Linked DNA regions of Homo sapiens: region 1 is linked to region 2. Evidence: fine-mapped expression QTL. A gene starts in region 2. The other region holds a variant in brackets. All regions are shown on one strand. Distances are from middle to middle. Region 1 has its middle 13 kb from the start of C3orf22. Region 2 holds the start of CHST13 (carbohydrate sulfotransferase 13).

The links. PIP is the estimated chance that this variant, and not a neighbour inherited with it, causes the effect. A credible set is the group of variants that fine-mapping cannot tell apart.
Region 1: its variant is the best candidate, but not a certain one, in a credible set for the expression of CHST13 in tibial nerve (GTEx, PIP 0.74).

Annotation. Positions count from the first base shown.
Region 1 is chr3:126,543,655-126,549,022 of GRCh38, reverse strand. It overlaps a transcript of C3orf22 not described here. Among named protein-coding and RNA genes, the nearest start is that of C3orf22, 13 kb to the left of the region's middle. The variant A/G (reference allele first, on the strand shown) is at 2,160.
Region 2 is chr3:126,521,645-126,527,012 of GRCh38, reverse strand. CHST13 (carbohydrate sulfotransferase 13) reads right to left here and starts at 2,858. Exons shown (of 3, transcript NM_152889.3): 1 at 2,584-2,858. The coding sequence starts at 2,680. It also overlaps a transcript of C3orf22 not described here. RefSeq lists enhancers at 1,471-1,971, 1,972-2,472, 2,533-3,033, 3,034-3,534.

The DNA of each region.
Region 1 (5,368 bases), 22 kb before region 2:
ATTTAAGGGTCCCCCCACTGTGTTCTACAAATACAGGGGCTAGAAAGTCACCTTGGAGTTCCTTGGGAGGGTGAATAAAATCAGGACACTTTGCAGCCTTCTCCCTGGAGTGGGATGTGGCTTTATTGTCTTCTCCCCAGGTGGGCAAGTGGCTTTATTGTCTCAGAAAGGAAGTGAAGTGAGGACCCTTGTGATGAAAAGATTGAAGGGGGTTGGCTTCCCAGGCCCTGGGGGCAGGACAGGGGTGGGTTCCCAACCTGCACGAAGCAGACCCTGGAGTCACATCTGTGGTGTTTGGGGAAGGGTGACCGGGCTGCACTGTGCCGCCCCAGCCAAGACTCCAGGCTCCCTCCCCAGGTGGGACCCCAGGTCCAGGCAGGGGACTCACAGCATTTGCCTGGGGATAGAGTACAGCTTCCAGCAGCACCCACAGACCTGCAGGAAGCAAAGATCCCTGGGGTCCCTTCCTGTGAGGGTGGGAGCCAGGCTGATCTTCATTTGGACTGTATAAGCTTCGAGGAGGTTGTCTCTGAGGTTTAAGCTATGCACTGTTTGATATAAGCAAAATACAGCAACGCATGTTTACCATGCAGCATAACCAGGGACACGAGACCCACTCTTATCCCTGCTGGGTGCTCCTTCCCCCACTTCACCACACCCTGAGTCCCTCGTACCCTGCCCATCAGGTCACCACATCTTTCTCCCCACTTAAAAAATGTTATAATTTGGCCAGACATGGTGGCTTACGACTGTAATCCCAACACTTTGGGAGGCTGAAGGCAGGTGGATCACTTGAGCCCAGGAGTTCGAGACCAGCCTGGGCAACATGGTGAAACCCCGTCTCTACTAAAAATACAAAAATTAGCTGGGCATGGTGGCATACGCCTGTGATGCCAGCTACTCAGGAGGCTGAGGCAGGAGAATGGCTTGAACCCAAGAGGTGGAGGTTGCAGTGAGCTGAGATCGCACCACTGCACTCCTTGAAATAACACATTGTTTGCTTTTTTCAATTATATAAGACTGTGTCAAACTCTGCAACTTTTTCCCCTCCACAGCAAGTTGCTAAGAGTCATGTGATGATGATGCTACTGCTGTAGTTCCTTCATTTTCCACTGTTTCTCATTCCATGATGTGTCCATTCTCTTTTGGGTAGATGTCTGGGTTGTTTCCACTTTGTGCTACTGTGGGTGCTGCTGCTCTAGGCATTCCTGTCCCTGTCCCCTGGGGTGTACTGTCTCCCCTCCCCAACCCATGATAGGATTTGCTGGTTGGTTGGTTGGAGGGCTCCTGAGCACCTCCTTTATCAGCTCTTGCCAGAACAATTTCCAGAGAGTTCCCAGCCTCTCCAGGTTCCCTCTGGTCCACACCTGCACTATAGGCAGGGCCCAGAGCTTTTGGGACTGGAGCAGGAGGGGTCGCTGGCTGCCTGCTCTTCCACTCATGATAGCAAAGCTGGTGGTGGTTTGTAGAAAAAGTTGGTAACTCATTACCTGAATCCAGAGTCAATTATAAAAACATACATGGTCTGTAATTCGTGCCTCCTCTCCTGGGCGTTTAAAGGAAGAATCTGAGGGCAGCTGGGATGTGTTTGCAGCCCCTGCCTTGTGCACTGAGTTTAGGTTTATGTGCATGTTATTCCTGCAAAGAAGAAAATGAGCCCCCAGGAAGCTGCACCGCATGGAAGCCCTTGCAGAGGAGCGGGTGACAGCTGAAATGTTTGACAGGAGAGAGATGGTGCAGCAATACTCTCTAAGCACAGCTACTCCATAAACTTTAGAAATGCTCACACAGTGGCCCAGATAGCAACATGGGCCCTGTGCCCTGCATCTCTGAGGCCATCTGGGTCCCCATGTGCCCTTAAGCTGTGAGCAGTTACAGTCAAACACAGATCCACAGGTAGAAAGGATGAGGCACGGTGGAGGTGCATTGGGGAGTGTGGACCCTCTCCCAGGAGTTTATCCTGCAGTCACACTCACACCTATGCAGGAGGAGGGTATGCAACAACATTCATGTCGGCACTGCCACAGAAAAGGATCCAAACTAACCTAGCATTTAAGACCAGTGGAACAAAAGCAGCATGTCATCATGGATTTATGGTTGATTCCCTCTTTGCCTCAGTCCCGCAGAACCAGCTCTGGAGGCAAGGATGGAGTGTGAGT[A/G]GTTTTTGTGAGAGGCAATCCCAGTTAGCCCATAGAGAAGTAGGGAGGAGACAGGGAAGGGACGGAACCAGACAAGGAATGTACCCTTGAGCTGGCAACCACGGCTTAGTCTGCTGGGACCACCGTAGCAAACACCACAGGCTGGGGGGAGTTAAACAATGTTCATTTTCTCCCAGTTCCAAGGAAGGCTGGACGTCCAAGGTGAAAGTGCTAGCTGCCTTGGTTCCCTGATGGGGGCTCTCTTCTCTCTTCTGGGCTTGTAGATGGCTGCTTTCTCCCTGTGTGAGAGGGAGAGGCGGGGAGGGAGAGAGAGAGAACTCTCCAGTGGCTCTGCTTATGAGGACACTAATCCCACCATGGAGACCGCATCCTCATGACCTCATCTCAACCTGATCACCTCCCAAAGGCCCCATCGCCAAATAGCATCACATTGTGGGTGAGGGCTTCCACATAAGACTGGGGAGAACATAATTCAGTCCACAGCAGCCACTGAGGGCATTTGGTGCCCAGTCCCCGTGGGGAAATCTGGGGCACCATGCAGATTGTGTCTCAATGTCCTTCATGCAGGGATAAAAGCTGGAGCATTTATCGCCCGACTTCCAACAGATGTAGGTGAGGACTGCTTCCAGGGGGCACTAACTCCTGCACACCCAGCCTTCTTGTGCCCAGGCCAAGAGGCCTGGTGGTCAGAGGGAGACTGCGGGAGGGTTGCAGATGCTAGGGAGCGCATTGAGGCACCCGACCTAAAACTGGCTGTCAGTTCCCAGACTCCCTTGCCACTGGGAATACAGTGGGCTAGGTTCAGGCCAATGGCATTGCACTGGAAATGGAATGGACTGTCCAGTTTGTGTCTTTAAAGCCAGCTTGGGTGCCCTTCTTTTCCCTTTGACATTGGGATACTTGAAAAGTGAATGGCTCACTCTCATGGAAAAGGGCCAGGCCCTAGGGACTAGGGAGCAACAAAAGAGAAGGGTCCTGGGCTCCAAGTGGCCCATTGGAGCATCTGTCCCACCAGCCCTCAGCCCCCTTCCTCTGGATAACAGAAAACACCTTAAACGACTGTCATCAAGCCTTTGTCCCAGGCAGCCGCACCTTTATCTTCATGCAGGAGCCACAGCATGATGGGGAAAGGTGGCATCCTGAGATCTGGGCCCACTGACCCCTTGGAGTGTGCTGGTGACACACATTTGGAGCTGCATGCAGCAGCCCTGGGCCTTGCCTTCACCCTGCTACTGTCTTACTCGTTGCTGAAGCCCACAGATGCATTCGGCTGTGCTTCCAAAACAATAATGCATTACATCTCGCTGTTTGTGAGAAACCAGGGATTTATTTTAAATTTTAAGCATTGGAAACATCCCTCTCAGGAAGCTGCCTGAATGACAAAGCCACAGAATAAAACTGAAAAGAAAAACAAGCCCTACCCCATAACTGCAGAAAGTTGGTTAACATTTTCCTGACAATGAAAGCCAGAAAAAAGCAAAAGAGCACTTACACTTATTTTAAAGAAGTCTGTAACCCAAACCAGCAATGGCACCCCATCCTGGGAGGTGTCCTGCCAGCACTATCCAACTTTAAGAGACTGAAAACCTGGGAAGTAAAAGACAATTTCAAGGAAGTTAAAATGCCGCGTGACCTTGGGTTTGTGCCATCAGCCCTTGTGGGCACTGGACTATGGTTTTAACAATCACTTGCCTGAAGGAGGTGCCAGATGGAGAATCACCTGGGCACCCCCCTGTGTTGTCCAGCTCTGCACATGTGACCCTGTCTTTCTTGTATCCTCTAGTGATCCAGCTGGGATCCCACAGGGTGGTCAGCCTGTGATCTGTGAGGACACAGACGTTCTGGCACCAGCCAGAGAGGAAACAGGCCACAGCAGGCCAGAGCAGGTGGAGTTCCCCAAGGACAGCCTCCAGAGCTGCCCCAGCGCCCTCAGTCCTCGAGGGCCTGGGCTGTGGCCCTGCACATACAGCAGAGGGTACAGAGCTGCATGTGGTGGGCACAGCGTCTGGGTGACACTGGGTGCCTGCAGCATGTACACATGGGGGCATCAGTGGGGAAGCAGTGGAGTAGCTGCCCACACAAGGGACTGTGAGTGTGATAACTGCCAGCATGTCCAGGTGCTGAGGGCATGACAGCAGGAGGCAGGGCACATCTAATTGTGAGACACCTGGGAGTGAGACATCCAGATGGGTGTCAGTTTCAGCAAACAGGTCCCATCGGGGGCTGTGTGGGAGCTGAGTGAGCTGGGAACAAAGGCATGTGTCATCAAAATGGGTGTGCAACAATTGCACACACAGTGGCCTAGAACACAGCATGTGTGGCCTCTAAGGGAGCATGTGAGGGCCAGGGAGCCCCTCACAAAGACAGTGGCCCCAGTGTGGCCAAGGCCCCATCCTTCCCTCCTCAGCCTGTCTCTAAACAGTGGGGCTCTGGCCCAGTACCTTAGTCCCTTTTCTGTTACTTGTAACAGAGCTCCTGAAACTGGGTAATTTATAAAGAAAAGAAATTTACTTTTTACAGTTATGGAGGCTGAAAAGTCCCAGCGTTAGGGACTGCATCTGGTGAGGGCCTTCTTGCTGACAGGGGCTCTGGACAGTCCGGAGGTGGTACAGAGCATCACGTGGTGAGGGGGCTGAGTACACTACCTCAGGTCTGATTTACTCTTCTTATAAAGCCACCGGTCCCACTCCCATGGTGACTCATTAATCCATCAACCCATCAATCCAGTAAACTACCAATGGATTAATTGATCCGTGAGGGAAGAGCTCTCATGACCCAGTCACGTCTTAATGGTTGGGTCATCTCTCAAGACTGCCACATTGTGGATTAAATTTCAACATGAGTTTTGGAGGGGACAAATATTCAAACCATAGCACCCAGGGAACGCTGGAAATGGTGCAAGGCCCTGGGCTTTGTATGTCCCTCCAGTGGGGGAAGGGCCCAGGCTGGGGGAGGCCTCATGGGGAAACCAGTGGCAGCTGCAGCCCCTTCCCAGGTCCACTGGAGTTGGCCACCCCATTCCTGCTGGCAGGGCCTCTGGACACAGCCCTGGGGGAGCTCAGAGACAAGTGGCCCAAGACACACCCACACTCACACATTCACACATACACATACACACAATTCCTCTCACACACTCATGCACACATGCACACTCTTACACTCATATACTCACTTATGCACACTCTCACTCATATACTCACACACTCATG
Region 2 (5,368 bases):
AATGTAAGCTCCTCGAGGCAGGGGTATTTCTAAGTTTTGTTCCCCACTGTCTCCCAGTACCTGCACGAGCAGACAACCAACAGGTCCGTGGTCCGTGGTGTGCCAGCCACGGGAAGCATGGTCACCATGCCCAGGCAAAAACACAGAGGGAGCCAAGGGGGCCGCAGGAGACCCAGGGGTCTGCCATTGGGAGCTGCCGCTGGGCACTGGGGATGAGGGTGGGGTGATGAGGGCAGCAGTGCTCTGGGCAGCTGCCCCACCTTCCTGGAATCTCCTCCTCCCTGGGACCCTAAGCAGTAGGCCAGTGCAGGTGGTGGAGCCCTGGGGCTGAGGCTGTGGCTGTGGAGGGGCTGCCGCAGACCTCCCCCTACTAGAATGTCTCTGAGCTCCCTGGGGTAGCAAGAGCCCCAGGCCTGAGCCAGTAGCCCTTCAGTGGCCCCTTGCCCAACTTACGGCAGCACCTCTGGCTCTGGAGAAGGAGGGGACAGTGCTGGGCCTCTTGCTCTGGAGAAGGAGGGGACAGTGCTGGGCCTGCCCTCCTGGGAGAAGGGGCTGAAATCCCTCCTGAGTTCTGGAGCCCTCATCCCCAGGCCAGAAGCCCTCACAGGGCACAGACCACATCCCTTCCAACTCAGGCATGGCTGCAGAGACACTGCAGGCCCTCGTGAGGCCATTTCCAGAGGCCAAGGGCAGGGGATGCCCCTCCAGCAGGACTAGCCTGGCAGGAAAAGGCCTTTCCCAGCTGAGTGCCCTCCCTGTGTGCCACCTGCAGGCCCACAAGCATAGTCTCAGCCAAAGCTTCAGCTCAGGGCTTGGGAGAGAGAAAAGCCAGTGTGAGAGGCTGGATAGGTTGGTCTGATTAACTCTTGCTCGCCCAAGGTCACTCACAAAGCTGTGATGGCTGGAGACAGGCCATGGGAGAGGTACAAGAGCGCTTGACAGAAACAGAGAGAGATGCTGAGATGCTGGGTGAGGTCATGGCCAAGAGCAGGACAGGCCAGGTGGAGAGCCCAGCCTGCGCAGAGGCTGGGAAGGGAGGTTCGGAGCCGTCCTCCTAACACCTGCTGTCTCTTCCCAGGCTCTGCAGGAGAGGGAGGGAGGTCAGAAGGAACAAAGCCCAGAAGGTGACTAGTACCTTGGTTTGTTTCTCATCCCTCAAACCTGGGTAGAGTAGGTGACAGGAGAGAGGTGTCCCACGGAGACATGGGGACGCAGACACTCCATGCAGTCACTCAAAGATGTATGCTCCTTTGCAGACACTCCCCGGGACCCAGGCACTCAGGTGTCCTCTAACATCCCACGCTGAGCCCTGAGGGGCCAGTAGCCACCAAGTTCTGCCCTGTCTTAGTACTGGGTAAACATCTGTCTACTGAATGACTCGGTGGACAGAGGCTGTGGCAGCCACAGACACTGAGTCCACACCCCAGACTGCCAGGAGATTGTCTGCTCAACACCACCAGACAGCTCACAGAAGGGGTTGTGGGGGTGCTGGAAAGAGACACCCCAGCCCTATCCCATGGGCTTGGGGAGGCATCCAGGTCTGACCTGCTGTGTCTGGACACACAAGGGGCAAGGGGCAGTGTGAGGGTCAGGGGGAGTGGGCAGAGGCCTCCCCAGGCCCTGATATCCTCAAGTCTTGGGCCACTCCCACCCCCACTGCCCAACATCCCCGCCCACCCTGGACCTAGTTACTTACTCCCTGGGACTGTGTCTGCCAGGTTCCAAGGGTGGGGCCCAGGATTCTCAGAGCCCACACTGGGGGTGGGGAGGCGGACTGAGTCGTCCCACCCAGCACGCATACCACATACAAGGAAAGGCAAACAGCCCTGAGGTCAGGAGACCCGGGCGCTGGCTGGGCCCCTCCAGTCCCAAGTAGATTGTATAGCCAGCACGTTGCCACCACACCTGTCTCCCCACTCTCTGGCCCGCTTCAGATTGTGTGAAATGGGTTGATGGGAGGCTTCACATGAGCTGAGGAGAGACTCAGAGCAAAGACTCAGCACCGGTGGAGCCCAGGGCACTCAGCTCTGCGGAGTCATGACTAACTGCCTCAGTTTCCCCAGCCAGACCACGAGTGGGTGCACAGGAGTCCCAAGCCCTACCCAGTGTGGATTTCAGGGTGGAGCAGGGAGTGGCACCCACTGCACAGTAGGACAACCAAGGGACCGGACCGAGTGGCCCAAGCTTCCCCTCCTATGCGCATGCGCCCAGCAGCGCTCATGTCCAGGGGCCGTGGGGTGCGCAGGGGAAGGGGGTGAAGGTAAGGGAGATGGCCTTCCCGGATTGGCCAATTGTCCTCTACCCCCCACAACTGACCCCGGTCTCCAGGCACCGGCTGTGGGACTCAAAACAGTCACCGCTCTGGGAGTGGGGAGGTAACTCCGGAGGAGGAGCAAGAGCCTTTGCTCGCGGGGGCGTCTAGAGCCTTTCTGTGCCTCACCAGCGCCCCTGCCCGCCACCCCTAGCCCCAGCCAGGAAGGAGACAACAGGTGTCCCCCGCGCTGTCGAGGGGTCAGGCCGCGGTGGAAAGCGCGAGGAGCCAGGTTTGGTTGGGGGTGCGCGGCTCGGCCGGCGGGCACTCACCCGGGCGCAGGGAGCGGGGCGCGGCGCATAGGAGCAGGAGCGCGGCGCCCAGACAGGCGGCCGCCAGCACGCGCCGCCGGCAGCAGCGCCTCCCCATGCTGTGCCGGGCGCGCGGCGGAGGACAGTCCGCTGGATACGGCTGGGGGCGGAGTTGCACTGGCCCAGGACCCGGCCCCGGCAGCGCAGCGCCTACCAAGACGCGCGGCGCGGCGCAGGGCAGGGGAGCACGGCAGCTGGACCCCAGCCCCACCAGCCCCTGCGAGTCGCTGGGGACTGAGGAGGCGGGACACGGTGGGGCCGCAAGCCCGCTCCTCTTTTCGTGCCCCCACCCTCACCCAATGGAATGGGGCCGAAGTCCAGGGCGCTAGGGCGGAGACTGATTGGGGAAGCCCCTCGCCTCTGGGCCCCGCCCCTAGGGTTTGCCCAGGGGTGCCATTATCCACCCAAGGCCAAGAGGCATTGTCGCGGTGGCGTGCCCCACCCCGGGCGGTGTCCCCTTGCCTTTTTGCTGCCTTAGATGCCAGGGGCCCAAGGGCTGATCTGGGATGAACCAAGGAGCCTAGTAGAGCGTTGCCCTGTCCATGGCTCTCCGGGACCCCCGCCCTCAGTAAGAGGCCTAAGAGTGTCCCTCCCTCCCCGACCCAAGGCTACCCTGCAGCCTTGCTTTCCTCCAGGGTCTCCAGGTCCTGCCTGAATCTAGCTCATGCAGGTGGCACTAGCCTTTGCACAGAGAGGTAGGGTCTCAGCTTACATCCCCCGGGGAATGGAGCTTGTGCCTCATCGTGTCACCCACAACTTCTCTGGGCACCACGTGAGCTCTGAGGACTTGCCAGGGACTGTGTGTGTGTGTGTGTGTGTGTGTGTGTGTGTGTGTGTTGGGGGGTGGAGGGGGCGAGGTGAGAGTAAAGTCCAGCCTTTGAAAGACACACACATCCAGCTAGCCCTGTGGGCAGGAGCCCACGTCTAACCGCAGGGTCTTGCTGCCCAGAAGTCAGGCTAGCAGGGAACGGGAGGGTGCAGCTGGCACTGGGTGCGCGGATGAGTGCGTTGGAAACAACATTTAGCAGTGTGAGTGCATGGGATAGGGTACTACATTACACTGTAGGTTTTTTTTGGAGTTTTTTGTATAAATGTAAGGGACACAAGTGCAGGTTTGTTACATGGAGATATGCAGTGGTGAGGTCTGGGCTTTCCGTGTAACCATCACCTAAATAATGTCCATTGTACCCATTAAGTAATTCCTCATCCCTCCCACCTCGCTCACTCTCCTACCCTTCCAAGTCTCCAGTGTCTATTATTCCACACTCGAAGCTCCAGTTGTTAAACTGTTCTTGAAAAATGTGGTGACTCCAAACCCACCTGGTGCCGCTTACTGCTGTGGGAGATTAGGAAATTAACTGCACCTCTCTGTTTCCCATTTTCCTGTACGGGGGGATAATCCTAAACCTCAGTGCTGTGAAGATTAAATGAGATACAGGAAATGTTTGCAACAGTGTCTGGCACTCAGTGAGTGCCAGGTAAGTATTTGATATTAGTAATTAATTTGTTTATGGTTACTGCCTGTTTCTGGCAAGTGGCTGGTTTCTGTTAAAGTGGTGAAATAAAAATTTCTCCCTACTATATTTATTTAAGTTGTGGAAGATCTATTTAAGGAAGAATATTAAGCAAATAATAGTTCTGCTGGTTTTGAGATACAGCTTTAAATGGTGATGATGTTCTCAAAGGACAGGGGTGGGAGTCCAGACTCACAGTAAGCTAGAAGCTTCTTATCATGACTTTTCTGGCCTTGGGGAACCTCTAGCCCACCCCCAGACTGGCCCAGGACCCAGGGATTCCAGGTCATCTGCATTCCCTGCCGGACCTAACTCGCATCCAAAGGTGCCTTCCAAATTTCCCCAGACCGGCATTCCCTGGCCTCACTGCCAGCCTGGAATCCTCAGCGCGCTTTGCCCTTATATGCTGCCACCTGGTGGCCAAAGTTGGGAATAACATCTCAGCCCTTCATCCGGAGATGTCCCTGGAAATGGGGTCCCTGGAGAAAGGAAGAGATGGTCTTGGGTCTTGGGGTGGGAGGGTGCAGATGCCTGGCTAGACGCCCGGGGCCTAGGGAGCTTCCCTGCGAAGACGCCCTCTCCCAGGGACTCGCATTCATTCATTCATTCGACAGATACAGAACACCCACTCCGTGCTGAGGCCTGGGTGGAGAGGGTGAGACCCATGCAGTGTCTGCCCTCACAGCATTTCCATTACAGATTGGAAGCACGGAAAATCAGGATAGAGAGATAGAGCGGTGAATGCTGCTGTGAAGAAAACACAGCGGGTACCAGGATGAAAAGTGTGTCCGGTGCAAGGAGGGTGCCGGGGCAGGCCTGGGGGAGGTGGCATTGGAGCAGAGATGTGACTCCAGGGAGCAGAAGCCAGCAGGTACCATTGCAAAGGCCCTGAGGTGATGTTCCAGTTGCTGTTGCTAGGTAACAAACTGCCCTAAAATTTGGCCGCTTAAGACAACCATTTAAATTTTGCTCACAATTTTGTGTATTGGGAATTGGGGCATGGGCTTGGCTGAGTGCTCATGGGAGTCTCAGGCTGCCACAGTCAGAAGGCAGCTGGCACTGCATCACTGGGAGGCTCACCCAGGCCCAGTGTCCCACTGGCTCACACTGGCAGGTGGTGTCCGTCTGGAAGCTCTGCTGGGCAGCGATCCAAGGATCCCCTCAGGGCACCCTTCATTCTGGGGGCCTCCTGGGGCACCCTCCAGCCCTCGGGGCACCCTCTGGCCTGGGGT